Linked DNA regions of Homo sapiens: region 1 is linked to region 2. The links come from fine-mapping of genetic effects on gene expression. A gene starts in region 2. The other region holds a variant in brackets. All regions are shown on one strand. Distances are between the middles of the regions. Region 1 holds the start of NPHS2 (NPHS2 stomatin family member, podocin). Region 2 holds the start of SOAT1 (sterol O-acyltransferase 1).

Region 1 (8,330 bases), 280 kb after region 2:
AGCACATGTCCAGAGGCTTATCTTCCATGAAATAACTTCCCCATTCATTACAAGCCTTAATGTCTGAAGTTCCATCATTTTAACACCTCCATTAAGGTGTTGATCTCAATAGTCTTTGAAAATTAACTTTATGGGGTAATATTCACCTACTAATATGTATAAAAAAGTGATAAGGAACTGGGGTTCAGAACATCCAAGATGCTTGGGTGATAAATGAAACAATATCAAGGAGAGTCAGTCTCAAGAACACAAGCTTCTTGGGGTCTTGTCTTATTTACAGTATGCCCCCAGGGCTTAGAATAGTGCCTGGCACCATACATGTGCTCAATAAATATTAGTTGAGTGTGAGAAGAAAGGAGGAATGAAAATGATTTAAATGTAAGAGTTATGAAAATTTCAAGAATTTTAACCTCCAGGTACTAGAAAACTTACTAAAGCAATATTATTTGCCAGTTTAAAAAGATCGTAGAGGACTAGAAGGTGACTAAAAATTAGGAAATGGTAGTCTACTTTCCTTCCTTTCTTCCTTCCTTCTTTCCTTCCTTCCTTCCCTTCCTCCCTCCTTCCCTCCCTCCTTCCCTTCTTTCTTTCTTTCTTTTCTTTCATCTTTCCTTCTTTTTTTCTCTCTTTTGAGACTGGGTCTTGCTCTCTCCAGGCTGGAGTGCAGTGATGCAATCATGGCTTTCTGCATCCTCGGCCTCCTGGGCTCAAGCAGTCCCCCCACCTTAGCCTCTCAAGTAGCTGGGACTACAGGTGCATGCCACCTTACCTGGCTAATTTATTTTTTTGCAGAGATGGGGTCTCGCTATTTTGCCCAGGCTGGTCTCAAACTCCAAGCCTCAAGTGATCCTCTCACCTCAGCCTCCCTAAGTGCTGGGATTATAGGTATGAGCTATGGCACCTGGCCTAAAATCTTATTTTTAAGAGATGGGGACAAAGGGGATAACTAATTAGTAGGCCTGAAAATTTGATTTTCATGCCCCAGAAAGGTCACCACCAAATTGATGTGCAGATCACTTGAAGAAGAGGACAGAGATGCAAGCTGCACCAGCACAAAAACAAAATCAGCACTGAATACCATAGTATGGCAGTTTCTAAAGGCCATCCTACGAAATACTAATCCCACGGAGTGCTCCACCAAAGAAGAACTTCCTGGGCAAATGAGTTTAGAGAATACTAGGCACTACATCCCATTCCTGGAGTTCCCAGTGCTCTTCAGGACATTGAAGCTATGAGAATCTCGCAAAGCATTCTTAGCTTTGTTTACACACATTTGACCAGGTAATATTTTCTCTAAGGAACGCTCATTGATATTCTATGGAACTTATTTCTCATGGAACCTACTCTGGGAAATGCTGCTCTACCAACATATTAATTTTTATAATATTCTCTTTCAAGGACAATGACTAACAGTATCATTGCCAGTTTTAATTAGTTCATAAATATGTTTCAGTTACCAGTGGTAGCCATGGCAAGTAAAAATAAATAAATGCATATACAAAATTACATTTTATAAATGAAGAAAGGCCTCAAAAATTCCTTCATACAGTAGCGAGAGATATGCGTAGAAAACTAATTTATATCCTCAAACCTAACGTGAAGATTTACCCCCAAAATATTATTCTGTTAGAATAAGTTGCTTGAATATCCAACTTGTTTGGTTTAAGTGAATAGTGAAACATTAATTATTCAAGCAGGAAAACCTTTAAACATTGTCTGAGAGTCCCCAACATTTTGGTGAGGTGAAGCGCCTTTTCATTTCTCCCGTCTTAAGTAGCCTGCCTTTGGGAGTGTGGTGCTAGGTGAAAAAGAGGAGGGGATGTTACTCTCTGTTCCCCGTGAGCTTCAGAAACCTCCCACACAAGGGCTCAGCAAAGGTCACTTCATCCTTAGTGGGACTGCTCGCCCATTGCTTGAGGTCTCCTGCTTTTGTTACTCTGTAGCTGTAGGGACTGAGGCCCAAAAAGGTGCCCAAGGCCACAGCTATAGGACCATGACCAGAAATGAGGGGCAGCAGCAAGCAAGGGTGAGCATTTCAATCAGACTGTCTTACTCTGGGATTTTGGCTTCTCTACTTCCCAGCTACACGACTTGGGCATGTTACTTAATTTCTCAGAGCATGTTTCCTCATCTGTGATAAGAGGATGGTGAGAGATTAAATAACTCAGTAAAACACCCAGTGTGTGCCTGGCATATAGTAGGGGTTTCATAAATGGTGGCTTCCTTACTTGTCTACCCTACCAGTGTGATCTGCTGCCTCACAGTTACAAGCCCTCTAACCTCAGCATTGAACCCAGCAACCATTTACTGAACAGAGGTTTCTGACTGATGAAAGGGTATCATCAACTGGGCAAAACAGTATTAACGTGACCCATTTAAATTATACCCCAACTGCAGAAATCTTCCTTAAATGGTAGCTTTCAGTGATCCAGCATGTACTGCTTTGCTGGTAACTAGGAAATGTTAAAACTTCAGAGCCAGCAGGAAGCAATATAACACACTATTCCTTATTTAATTTCTTTTAACACCTGTCATCCCACTAAAGTGGTAATCATTTTTTTCTTCCACTCATTATAAAAAAGACTGGAGGTAGACAAAATTTTCCCAAGAGTTGTTTCTCCTGCAGAAGCAAAAGAGACACCTTTCTTTGCATTCCCTCCTTTGATCTAATTTTCCTCTCTCTTAGCTTGCAGCTGGAATTGAGTAAGTTTTTGTTCCAGACTTTGTGCAAAGTGCTTTGGATGCCTTTTCTCATTGTATCCTTACCACTACCCTCTGAGGCAGGTACTGTTATAGGAGAGATGGTTAAGGTCCTTCCTATGATCACATGGCTAGCAAGTGGTTGAGCTGTGATTTAAACTCAGGTGTGGCTCTTCCTCACTTGGCTCTGCTGCGACTGCTTTTCAGAAAGAATGATCATCTTCCCAGAAGTTTAAAATGCTTTTAGGTAAGACCGAGGGGTGGGGACGCTGGAAGAAGAATAAGCCTACAGCCTACAGCCACCAGCTCGTGCATGTCTTTACTTAAATTAGGTGCCCGTATGCCCCTCCATGGCCACAAAAACCAAGTCCATGGCTCCTTTGCCAAGTTGCTTCGTCCCCAACCTGTACCACACTCGCTCCCCAGTCCCATCCAAGGCTGGCCCCGAGACCAGTATATAGTGATATTTGTATTTCTTCTGATGTTCTTTGCTCACCATAGCAGGTTGCTGGGTTCCTAACTTACGCCCTTCCGTTCCTGGGAACCTGAGCATCCAGCAATCTGCTCTGGCTTCAGTGGGTCTCGTGGGGATGACCCTTTCCACCTTATCTGACGCCCCTTAGTTACCACCTGGAAAAGTAGCAGATAGTGGTGCTGAATCCGTACCTTCCTCGGGCCGCTCGCTCTCCAACAGCGCCACCACCTCGGTGCCCTCCTCGCCGGAGCCTCGGACCTCATCCACGTCCACCACCGTGGCGGCGGGCGCTCGGGGCTCCCCCGGGGTCCCCGCCCGTCCGGAGCCCGACGGCTCGGGCCCAGCCTCCTGGCGCCCGCGGCCTCCGCCGCTCCTCTCGGCCTTTGCCCTCTTGTTCTCCTTGTGCGGAGTCCTGCCGCCTCGCCCGCGGGACTCCCTGGAGGAGCTCCGCGCCCTCCTCTCCATCCTCAGAGCTGCCGGGCGGCTGGAGCAGCAGCGCGGGAGCGCTAGGGGCACGGGAGCGCAGTCCCTGTGGAGTCGCTGCGGGTCCGCGTGGCGTGCCCGGGGGACCCTAAAGACCGTCGGGTGGGGGCTGAGGGCGAGGGGCGGGACACCGGGGCCGCGGGCGGGGCGCACCCGGAACCCCGAC[A/G]GCTGTGTCTTGGTGGAGCTGTGGACTGCGCCCGCCGACTCCCACGGCCGGGGCGGCGCTGAAGCAGAGAGAGGCCTGGGTGGGAGAGCCGGCCCCGGGCAGGGTGCGGGCGTTGAAAAGTGCGTGTCTGCAGGTGCCAACCCGGGCTGTGAAGACTCATCTCCTGGAGGGTTCCTAATGTCATGCTAGAGGGCTGACGGAGATACAGAAGCTCATCGCAAGCTCTGGTTTCTCTTCAAAACGAATACATCTTTTACCTTTTACTGCAGATTTTCGTGGAGAGGAACAGTTGTTAGTAACCTTTTTTGTCTGTTTGTTTTTAGGTCCTGCTTGGGCAGGGCCAAGTAAAAAAGAAAAAAGAAAAAAGAAAAAAACCACAAAAGGTCATCGAATTAGGGTCACTTTAAGGTAAAATCAGAAATTTCGCCTCATCCCCAACTTTCCTTCTTGGAGTCGTCTCAAGGATGCCTTTCTCTCCTCCCTACGTATTTCTTATTTTATATCCTGGCCCTAGTTATTCTACATATGCATTAACCCCTAATGATGTTGGCTGATTCCTCCTGGGAGTATTTACATTTTAAAGGGGATAAAAGAAAACTCTCTTTGCGATGTGTTTCGTCTCTGTTATTATTTAGGGTCTTTATTAATGCTTATGCCTGATGTTGATGATGCAATGCTTCTTGAAGAATCATAGGCAGGAAGGGGTCTGGTCTAACTTCTGTTTTTAGGAAGAGACACTTTGTCCCGTGCTTCCATGATGAAAGCAGGAGTTGGGCTTTTTCAGGGTTCATTGGCCAGGCTGGATCTAGCAACGATCTGGGGAGCTGCCTCACCCTCTTCTGAGGGACTTGAAACATTGAATAGGTTTATTTCTCTTTCACTTTCTGTTAATAATTTGTTTCTTACTGAAAGGGAGGTTGGTCAAGGTAACCCATCACCCAAGATTTATGATACTACTCAGATAGTTCAGATCACATGATGGCAGAAATAATGCTCACTGATTTTTTAAATTTTTTAAATATTTATTGAATTCACACAGCAATAGCTTTTTTTCTCTCCCAAAACCTTATTAAACACTGAGGACCTGAAGTAACTGAAGTGCGTCTGGAAAAACCATTCCACTACTTTCTTCTATATGTTCCAGGTTAGGCCACTGGGAGTAAAGTAAATAAAAGATGAGCAATCCAGTCACTTAAATAGATTTTTTACTGTCTAAACCTGATCATTGCATGGGCTAAGGAGGATAAATATTTCCTCGCAAGGGCCTGCCTCAGTTGATAGTTTCTGCCTACAACACTACAGTGAGAAAAATTCCAAAGCTGCGTTTGGCTCAAAGAGAGAAAGATATCATGATTATTTCATATTCCCCCAAATTAACATTTGCTATTAAACACAGCTAGCATCTTTATCATCCTTTAGAGATTTCCCTGTTAGAAAAAGTGACAAACTATTTGTAGCATTTATTGGTGTTTTTCCTCAGCCTGGTCCTGTTATAAATTAATTTCATCCGCATCCCTAGCTAGACTCTTATACTAAAATTGCACCTGTTTTTCATTCCAAGAATGGAGCAGGATATCTGGTCAAATGATATTCCCCAAACTGTACTGTCTTTCAATAAGAGAGAAATTCCTTGTAGGAGAAAAATCAATGAGAAAAGGCCCTACTGGGTGTTGGAGCCCATGCTGAGCACTTGTTCTCAGTCACCTTTGCTCAGTTTCCTTGGCTTCTTTGACCACTGACAAGTTACATTTCTATATCTATACATAACAGCAATATAAGCAGCTGCTTATAACACAAGTCTGCTGGGATTATGAGTGACAATGACAAAATCAGAGAAGCTGCATACCATTCCATGATAAAAAGGTCAATGCAGCATGGCTGGAAGGTGGAGGAGTTGGGGAAGGGAGTGCTGAGTTAGCAGCTAAGTCCAGCTGGCTGTCCTCATCTACTTTTACAAGGATGCTGCTGTTTTCTTTTAGATTCCTTTTTAATTGAAAGTGTTGCTCATCCCTTTGCTGAAAATATGATATGCACACATTCTGAAACTCTCAATACTTTACTCCTTGTTTGGATTTGTTAAGAAACTGACATCTGTGGGAACTGGGTTACTAGAAGAAAGGGAGGATCAATTAAAGCTGTTTACTTTTATGTTTCCAAGGTGAAAGATTATGAAAGAGTGCAAGGCTTTCTAAAGTATTACACTTATTCCCAGTTAGTGTTTTGAAGTATTATATCCATATGAATAAGTGAATGCATGAATACTGATTCATTTGGATTATTTAATGGAAAGGCTGGAATTGATTGGCACTACATGATGTTACAAATCCTGTTGTTTTAGAGCTGGAAACTATAAGGACTTACTAAATTTGACTTTCTCAATTTGTAGGTGGCAGAGAGACTAAATAGGAGGGCACAATAGTGGTCTAGGAAAGTGATGCAACTGAGAGCCTGATCTGCAGCTTTGGCAGTGGGTATGGCTTGGATTCAGGAAATATTTCTGAGGGAGAAAATCAAAATAATGTGGTAGTCTCATGGGATTATGGAGTGGGGACCATGAAGGGATAGAAGACTTGAGAAAGATGGAGAGTTCAACCTTAATAGGCTTAGCAGCTGATCGGAAGTTGCAGCTGCTTTGGTTGATCCACATCCCCTAACTGTTTTGACCCCAAGCATCTTATGTTCCTACCCTCTTTGCTTTGAAATGCAGGTGTTGGCCTGTTAGGTGCAGGGACAAGATGAGACTTAACTTAACTTCTATCTAATCAATTCACTCCATAGATACTTAGTGAGCACCTACTACATGTATTGCACTGCTCACCACTGAGGATTTAAAGGTAAGACATGGTGCATGCCCTTGAGGAGCGTATAGTATAACAGGGAGAGACAGATGTGTAAACAGACAAGTGTGATAAAGTGTTGTACCTCCAGGTTTTTCAACCTCAGCACTACTGACATTTTGGACTGGATGATTCTTTGTTGTGGAGGGCTGTCTTGTACATTGTAACAGCATCATTAGCATCGCAGCATCGTTAGCAAAATCCCTGGCCTCTACCAGATGCCTGTAGCACTTCATCCCTAGTTGTGGTGACCAAAATTATCTTCAGATATTGCCAAGTGTTTTCCCCATGGCATCAAACAAAATTGCTCCTGGTTGAGAATCACTGATCTATATGGTACTGTGAGAACACAAAGAAGGGAGTGAGTAACATTACCTGAGTGGAGTCAGAGGGGATCCAGTTTGGGCCATACTGGGATGAGTAGGTGATCCTCAGGCGGACTTTGAGAGCTGGGCCTTCCAGCCAGAGGAAACAGTACAAAAGATAGCAGGTCAATCAGTGGTTTGACAAACTGTCAAAAGAGGAGGCCGGAGAGGTAGGCAGCCCAAGAAATGAAAAGCCTTTTATACCATATAAGAGAACTTATATTTTATCTTATTGACAAAAGAAGCTATTGAAACATTGTAAGGAAGGAAAATGGTAAGATTTGCAATTGAGAAGAGTCACTTTATGGACAAGGTGGAAGGTGAATTGAAATGGGAAGAGGATGGGCCTGGCGCGGTGGCTCACGCCTGTAATTCCAGCACTTTGGGAGGCCAAGGTGGGCAGATCACGAGATCAGGAGATCGAGACCATCCTGGCTAACACGGTGAAACCCCATCTCTACTAAAAATAAAAAAATAAAAAAATTAGCCGGGCGTGGTAGCAGGCACCTGTAGTTCCAGCTACTCGGGATGCTGAGGCAGGAGAATGGTGTGAATCTGGGAGGTGGAGCTTGCAGTGAGCTAAGATCACACCACTGCACTCCAGCCTGGGCGACAGAGCGAGACTCTGTCTCAAAAAAAAAAAAAAAAAAAAGAAAAGAAAAAGAAATGGGAAGAGGATGGAGGCAGAGAGACCAGTGAGGAGACTCTTGCAACAGTCCAGGTGAGAGGGAGGATATGAGTTACGTTTACAGGGAAAAGTGATGACTCCCAGGACTCTAATCAAAGTGACTGGTGAATGGGGCTGACATCCAACTGAGGGAATACAAAAAAGGAAACAGATTTTGTGTAAAGGTGGGTGGGCCAAGTTCAGCTTCAGAGGTATTGAGCTAGAAGTGTCTGCAGGTTATCTGTCTAGAAATGTACAGTGGACAATGAAATATTTAGGTTTAAAGTTCAGGAGGGATTATGTTTCTGAAGCCAAGATCCTGACTCTTTCACTAGCTGCTGACTCTGGCTCCAGCATCCTGTGCTGGATTTTCAAAAGAAAAACATGGAAGAGGAAACAGCACATGGCGAAGTGATCCTGGCCAGCGATGGTTTCGATATACTTTATCATCTTTCTGGGTTTTTTCCACTAAAGATACATTTCTGGGCTGGGCGCAGTGGCTCACGCCTGTAATCCCAGCACTTTGGGAGGCTGAAGTGGGTGGATCACGAGGTCAGGAGTTCAAGACCAGCCTGGCCAAGATGGTGAACCCCATCTCTACTAAAAATACAAAAAATTAGCCAGGCATGGTGGCAGG
Region 2 (8,330 bases):
TCCCTCTGTCACCCAGGCTGGAGTGCGGTGGCGCGATCTCTGCTCACTGCAACCTCCACGTCCCGGGTTCAAGCGATTCTCCTGCATCAGCTGCCTGAGTAGCTGGGATTACAGGTGTGCGCGTGGCGCCCGGCTAATTTTTTTTTTTGTATTTTTAGTAGAGATGGGATTTCAGCAAGTTGGTCAGGCTGGTCTCAAACTCCTGACCTGGTGATCTGCCCCCCCTCAGCCTCCCAAAGTGCTGGGATTACAGGGGTGAGCCACTGCGCCCAGCCTTTTTTTCGAGACAGAGTTTCGCTCTGTCACCCAGGCTGGAGTGCAGTGGCGCAATCTCGGCTCACTGCAACCTCTACTTCCCGGGTTCAAGCGATTCTCCTGCCTCAGCCTCCCAAGTAGCTGGGATTATAGGTGCCTGCCACCACACCCAGCTAATTTTTTGTATTTTTAGTAGAGATGGGGTTTTGCCATGTTGGCCAGGCTGGTCTCGAACTCATGGCCTCAAGTGATCTGCCCACCTCGGCCTCCCAAAGTGCTGGGATTACAGGCATGAGCCACTGTAAAGAATTTTTTTTAACATCTTTTTCTTTTTTTCTTTTTGAGAGGGAGTCTTGCTCTGTTGCCCAGGATGGAGTGCAGTGGCGCGATCTCGGCTCACTGCAACCTCTGCCTCCCAGGTTCAAGAGATTCTCCTGCCTCAGCCTCCCAAGTAGCTAGGATTATAGGCGCCTGCCACCACACCCGGCTAATTTTTTGTATTTTTAGTAGAGACAGGTTTTCACCATGTTGGCCAAGCTGGTCTCGAACTCCTGACCTCAGGTGATCCGCCCACCTTGGCCTCCCAAAGTGCTGAGATTACAGGTGTGAGCGACCACGCCTGGCCTTTAACATCCTTTTATTGTAACACTTATCTCATTGTTTTGAAATGGCTTATACCTATTAGTGTCTCCAATAGACAGTCTTATTCATATTCTTAGCACTAGCAACTATACAAGTTCTGTACACCTGTTTTTTTTTCAATATGATGAAGTCAACACTTGCATTTAACCAAACCTTGATTTCCAAGGATTGAGTAATGTGAGATTTTCAGTGCAGTGGTGGGAGAGGCTTGGAGTCTGAGCACAGGCTTTGGAGTCCCTCCAATCATATATCATCTTTGCCCTTGCACTAAATGGTATCCCCATCCTCTCAATTGCTTAAGGAAACAACCTGGGAGTCATCTCGTTTACTACCTTTCTTCACACCTGCACCTCGGGAAAATATCCTGAAATCTTTCAATTTCTATTTCCACACCAACCAGCCTAGTCCAGGTACCACCATCTACCCCCTGAACTTGCCCAATAACTTTGTATTGTTCTTCGGCTCCTTTTTGTTCCATTGCTGCTCCCTTCAAGTCATTCTCTATAAAATAGGTTGATTTAAAAAAAAAAATAAACCAATGGCCGGGCACGTGGCTCATGCCTGTAATCCCAGCAGTTTGGGAGGCTGAGGCGGGAGGATCACTTGAGCCCAGGAGTTCAGGACCAGCCTGGGCAACACAGCGAAACCCTGTCTCTACAAAAAATACAAAAATTAGTCTGGTGTGGTGACGCCCACCTGTAGTCCCAGGTACTAGGGAGGCTGAGGTGGGAAGATGACTTAGCGAGCCTGGGGAGGTAGAGGATGCAGTGAGCCCTGATTGCACCACTGCACTCCAGCCTGGGCGACAGAGTGAGACCCCATCTCAAAACAACAAAAACCCAAACCCTTCATTATCTTGCCTTTGCACTTAACAGATAAATCCAAACAACGTGATTAGGTTCCTGCTTAATGCTCCAAACTCAACTTCAAACCCCTATTTGACATGCTCAAGCCTCCTGGCCTGTTCCTCAAACAGCCACGCTTCAGCATCAGCCACAGTTCAGCATCGGGGCCTTGACACCCATTATCCTCTGTCTAGAATGTTCTTCCTCCCCATGGTTGGCTTGGCTGGCTCCTTCTTGTCATTTAGGTCTTAGCTCCTGAATTATCTCCTCAGAAAATCCTTCCCTGACCATTCTGTTTTGTTTTCTGCTCAGTACTTATCACTGCCAGTGATTATCTCATCTATTCGTTTTATTATTTATATTCTTCATTAGAAACATAAGCTTTTGTTGTTTGAGACAGAGTCCCACTGTGTTGACCAGGCTGCAGTGCAGTGGCATGATTTTTTGGCTCACTGCATCCTCCGTCCCTCACCCCCCATCCCCCACCACAAGCAATCCTCTTATCTCAGCCTCCCGAGTAGCTGGGACCATAGGGGCCTGCCACAATTCCCAGCAAATTTTGTTGTCATTGTTGTTGTTGTTGTTGTTGTTTTTAAATTCTGTAGAGAGGGAGTCTCACTATGTTGCTCAGGCTGGTCTTGGACTCCTGGCCTCAAAGTGATCCTCCTGCCTCAGCCTCCCAAAGTGCTGGGATTATAGGCTTGAGCCACCTGTTTGTTTCCTTTCATACCTAGTCCTGCAGAACATAAGCCTCTAAGTGCAGGGGCTTCTTCTGTTTATTCACCACTGTATTTCTAGCACCAAGAATACTATCAATATTTTTTGAATGAATGAATCAAACAGTGAAAAGGCCAGTCATCTTGGTGTATATAGAAGGTAGCCAACAGAGACCCAATAGAAATGAGTGCCTATGTTCCTACTGCTCTATAACTAGTGGGAGTGGGGAGGGGAAGCAGCTGGGGGTCTACCAGACCCTGTCACCAACTAGTCAGCACACGTGGCAATCACAGTTGTAGAAGAGGCCAAACGGAGCAGATCTGCCAATGACAGCCAGTACTAAACTCGACTGGATGCTGAGGGCCATTTCTGCTTTGAGTGAACAGTGCAGCCTGCTGGGTGGCCAAGGGAACGTGTACAAATCCACTTTGTTTAAAGGACCCAGAGAGTAGTCAGTTCTGCTAAACCTCATCTGTTTGTTCAGGGATTTTTGTCCTGGGGAGGAGTGGGGAAGAAGCGATTAGTCAGGCCAGGCTAGCTGGTATTAGTTTGCAGGCTGTGAGTGCGACTCTTCAGTCTCTGCTCCTCTCATCATTGCCTTTTCACCTACCTTTACCCTAAATTTACGTACACCTCTGCCTTCACAAATTCCAAGCGATTAACTGTTGTATTTAATCTCTGTCCCAAATCTCTCTGCATCATTCTTCTTTTGATTATGAAGTCACGAGGGCCCTTTGTTTATTTTATTTTTAAAACTTTTTTTGAGAAGGAGTTTAGCTCTTATTGCCCAGGCTGGAGTGCAATGGCACAATCTAGGCTCACTGCAACCTCTGGCTTCCGGGTTCAAGCAATCCTCCTGCCTCAGCCTCCCGAATAGCTGGGATTACAGGCGCGCGCCACCAAGCCCGGCTAATTTTTTGTATTTAGTAGAGACGGGGTTTCACCATGTTGGTCAGGCTGGTCTCGATCCTAACCTCAGGTGACCCAGCCACCTCGGTCTCCCAAAGTGTTGGGATTACAGGCGTGAGCCACCGCACCTGGCCTCAAGGGCCCTTAAATATTACTTAGTTGTTCCATTATTTGGTGTGTTTTATTATTTGGTGCAGGTTTTTTCCCCTTATCTAGTTTGAATGTTGCTGAAGGACGCTGGTTTTCAAACGGTAAGGAATCTCCTGATAAAGGCACGAATCTTGGTGTGCAGATAAGCCAGCGATTCTTGCTTCTGGCTAGTTCTACGTTGTTCCTGGATGGTCAGTTCAAACTGCAATGATCCACAGCTCCAGAAGCGGCTTCTTCCAGTCGGCCTAGGAGCCAAACGCCCCTGCAGCTCCATGCTACCACGCAGGGTGCCGTTTCGGGCTTGCAGGGAGTTGTCGCAGTCCCGTTTTGGCTGCACATTCTACTGCTGGGGTGGAAGTGTCAAGCAAGATGTTGTCGCCGGTATCATGATGTCCGGGTGAGAAGCTTCCTTGGCAGGTTGCCAGGGCCAGCCTGCGAGCACTGGCGCCGGGGACCCGCGCGCCCGGGAAGGGGCGGGGAGGTGGGCGGAGCCTGGCAACCTGGGGACCACCAATAGGATGCTCAGCCGGAGGTGGCCCTGCGCGTGACGCAGCGGTGCTCGGAGGCAGGGGGCGTAGGGGCCGGGCTGTCCGGCGCTTTAGCTTAGCAGGCGACGTTGCGGGCCCTGGGCGCCAGGAGAGCTTCCCGGAGTCGACCTTCCTGCTGGCTGCTCTGTGACCGCTTCCCGGCTCTGCCCTCTTGGCCGAAGTGCCCGCTGCCGGGCGCGGGCCTCAGGTAACGGTGGTGCTCCCGCGCCTCTCCTCGCTTCCCGCTTGGGTCCACCGGCCTCAGCCCGCGGGGAAGGGAGAAGCGGTGGCGGCAGCAGCTCCGGCCCGGCCTTGTCCTGGGCTGTGCTGCGGAGAAGGCGAGGCTCGGCGACTGCAGGGGAGTTGGGGAGGGGAGGGCGGGAAAGTTACCGTCAGGCGCCCGGGTCACGGGCAGCCTTTTAAACCCTGCACGCTGGTTTGGTGTTCCGCAAATCTCGTGGCATCTCTCAAGTCAGTAGTAAAGAAAGTTAGGAATTAGAAGACGTTTTATTCTTTAAAAAGCGAAACCAAAAATGCACTCAGGAAGTCAGCTTTTTAATGATTTAGAGAAAATGTGTGAAGGGAAGGATGGTATTAGCAAGACATGAAAATCTGTAGGGGCACCAGAACCTTTAATCAAGCTCATGTTTTATTGTAAAATATTAGGATGTAGGTAAGTTTCTGTTTTCCCTAAGTGTTAATGGTCATGTAATTTAAATAATATGTATATTGAAAGGTTATTTCTAAGTGAGAAACAACTATATAAACTTTATTCTCCGTATATATATTTAGGTTAAGTTCGTTGGTCACTTTTGTTTGTTTGAGACGGAGTCTCGCTGTGTCGCAAGGCTGGAGTGCAGTGGCGCAATCTCGGCTCACTGCAACCTCTGCCTCCCGGGTTCAAGCGATTCTTGTGCCTCAGCCTCCTGAGTAGCTGGGATTACAGGCGTGCGCCACCACGCCCAGGTAATTTTTGTAGTTTTAGTAGAGACGGGGTTTCACCATGTTGGACCAGGTTGGTCTCAAACTCCTGACCTCAAGTGATCCGCCCGCTTCGGCCTCCCAAAGTGCTGGGATTACAGGCGTGAGCCACCGCGCCTGGCCTGTTGGTCACTTTTTAATATTTAAGTGGCTGCCACCTGTTTAAACCACTTTTTTCTTTTTTTCAGCCTGCTTGATTTCCTCTTCCTTGAAGTAGAATTCAATTTGAAGCTTTTTTTTTTTCTTTTTAAAAGTTGGGCGGTGTCAGTGAATGACTTGTTAAGGAAGTCTGTGCGTTGTCTGGGTGTGAGAATGGGTTTTGGAAGGAGCTCTGTGGCACTGAATTATCGTTTAGAAATGCACGTGTTTTAGTGAATCACATGCTTAGAATGCATCTGAGGTTTCGCAGTCTTTTAGGATAAAGACCTACTGAGTGAGCACACTCTATCTCTGGTTCATTTGGCCCACTTTCCTTCTGGCTTTCCAGGTTCATGCCACACTGGCTTTATTTTTGTTACTGGAAAGCTTCATTTTCTTTCCTCTCTTGGCTTTTAGGAGTTTCCTCCACCTCTAATGCTGTATTCTCTCCCTCCCTCCAACTCTTATACCTGCCTCAGATATCAGCCCACATATCACTTCCTCTGGAAATCACCCCATCCCCATTAAGCCCTCCATGAACTCTTTATTCTCCTTAGCAGAAGTTGATCATTAATTGTAATGAATTAGTTGCTTTGTTTCCTCTGCTAGTGCATTTCATGAAGGCTGGTTTAGCCTGTTGTAATTTTCAGGGTCTGGTCCAGCACTTGGCCCAGAGAAAGAATGAATAAGTTGGTGGACAGAGGAAGGAACTTTTGAATGAGAAATACAGTGATCCCCACTTAACTGCTTTCTGTAGTTTCAGCTACCTGAGGTGCGAAACAGAGTACAATAAGACATTTCGAGAGATACCATGTTCAAGTGAATTTTAATACAGTATATTGTTAATCTCTTACTGTGCCTAACTTTTTGAAACTTTGCCTCCCAGGTTCAAGGGATATTCATGCCCCAGCCTCCCAAGTAGCTGGGATTACAGGCGTGTCCCAGTACGCCCGGCTAATTTTTTTTTTTTTTTTTGAGATGGAGTTTGGCGCTTGTTGCCCAGGCTGGAATGGCACGATCTCGGCTCCCCGCAACCTCCGCCTCCCGGGTTCAAGCGATTCTCCGCCTCAGCCTCCCAAGTAGCTGGGATTACGGGCATGTGCTACCACGCCCGGCTAATTTTTTTTTTTTTTTTTTTTTTTTTTTTTTTTTTTAGTAAAGACTGATCAGATCTTACTGGTCAGGCTGGTCTCGAACTTCCAACCTCAGGTGATCCACCCGCCTCAGCCTCCCAAAGTGCTGGGATTACAGGCGTGAGCCACCGCGCCCAGCTCACCCGGCTAATTTTTGTATTTTTAGTAGAGACAGGGAGGGTTTCACTGTGTTGGCCAGACTGGTCTCAAACTCCTGATCTCAGATGATCGGTCTGCCTCGGCCTCCCAAAGAGGTGGGATTACAGGCGTGAGCCACTGTGCCCAGCCTGTAAATGAAACTTTATAATAGGTATGTATAGGAAAAAACAACGTGTATTGGGTTCACTGTTATTCACAGTTCTAGGCATCCACTGGGAGTCTTGGACCGTATCCCCCATGGATATGGGAGAACTACTGTATTAACCAGGGAAGAGTCCCTTTTTCCTATGGGAAAAAGTTTTTAACAAAGACCAGCCAAGTTCTATTTTTCTAAGAGGATGGCTTTGTTTTGCATTTTTTTTGCCACATTGGTTAATAAGAGATTATACTAACCATACAGATGTAAATGAGAATTTGTTCTTGTTCTTTAGTTTTGCTAATTACTTAAAGACCTAGTTCTGTGATATGTAAAAGTTGTAGCGTTGTGTTAGGGCCAACCTTTGGGTGCCAGAGGGAAATTTTTTTTGCTCTGGATTGTAAATTCTATCCACAGTTGTGTCCCCTTTCCACCACTGAATCTAAGGGTGATGTGGCAAAGTTCTTTACCTGGAGTAGGCACTCAGTATTTGTGATACAGATTTATGGGCTCTTTTGAAAGCTGTATTAATGGGAACACGGAGGCAGGCTAAAGTTGACATGTCTTTCCAAGTTCATTTGTTTCTCAAATCATTTCTTTTTGTTTTGCTTTCTTAAGATAAGTTAGATGCTTATCACACTGAACATTATGTAATTGCGTGCACAGATTAGATTCTTAAGAAATTCTTTTTCAATCAGTGTGTTGTATAAATAGCTGTCTACTTAGCTTTGTTACCTGGGGGGGAATAGCTTTATGTTACCTGTGACTTTGAACAAGTTTGTTAGCATTTCTGAATCTCCTGCATCTTTAAAAATGGACATGTTAAATGAGATATGTGCTACACCTACTGCACTCAGCACTTTGTTACCTGCTTCCTAAACGCTAGAGATTCCTTCACTGCTAGACCTCTTGAGAGACTAGTCTTATGATCACTGTTTTCACTTCCTCAACTTACTGGCGGTGTACTCCAATATATTTATTTGTCCTTCCTCCTAAAACTGTGCATGTAATCAAATCATAGCTATTAATGTCCCCCAATTGTGAAATATCCCATGTCCTGTCCTTTTCTTTTCTTTTTTGAGACGGAGTCCAGCTCTGTCACCCAGGCTGGAGTGCAGTGGCGCGATCTCGGCTCACTGCAACCTCCGCCTCCTGGGTTCAAGCAATTCTCTGCTTCGGCCTCCCGAGTAGCTGGGATTACAGGCACCTGCCATCACCCCTGGCTAATTTTTTGTATTTTTAGTAGAGACGGGGTTTCATCATCTTGGCCAGGCCAGTCTAGAATTCCTGACCTTGTGATCCACCCGCCTCAGCCTCCCAAAGTGCTGGGATTACAGGCGTGAGCCGGTGCGCTTGTTTAAGAAACAGTGGAAGGCCAAAGTAATGAGTAGAGAAAATGAGACAGCCAAGATCATGCCACTGCACTTCAACCTGGGCGACATGGCATGACTCCGTCTCAAAAAAAAAAAAAAAATGCCGGGCGCGGTGGCTCACACCTGTAATCCCAGCACTTTGGGAGGCCGAGGCAGGCGGATCACCTGAGGTTGGGAGTTCGACACCCCATCTCTACTAAAAATACAAAATTAGCTGGGTGTGGTGGCCTGTAACCCCAGCTGCTCCAGAGGCTGAGGCAGGAGAATCGCTTGAATCCAGGAGGCGGAGGTTGCGGTGAGCTGAGATCGTGCCATTGCACTCCAGTCTGACCAACAAGAGTGAAACTCTGTCTCAAAAAAAAAAA

Evidence for each region.
Region 1: its variant is fine-mapped to the expression of SOAT1 in whole blood (TOPMed, PIP 0.91).

The regions. Positions count from the first base shown.
Region 1 is chr1:179,572,225-179,580,554 of GRCh38, forward strand. NPHS2 (NPHS2 stomatin family member, podocin) reads right to left here and starts at 3,724. Exons shown (of 8, transcript NM_014625.4): 1 at 3,367-3,724. The coding sequence starts at 3,640. It also overlaps the pseudogene RNU5F-2P. The variant A/G (reference allele first, on the strand shown) is at 3,825.
Region 2 is chr1:179,289,684-179,298,013 of GRCh38, forward strand. SOAT1 (sterol O-acyltransferase 1) reads left to right here and starts at 4,114. Exons shown (of 16, transcript NM_003101.6): 1 at 4,114-4,253. RefSeq lists a silencer at 3,909-4,098 and an enhancer at 4,311-4,818.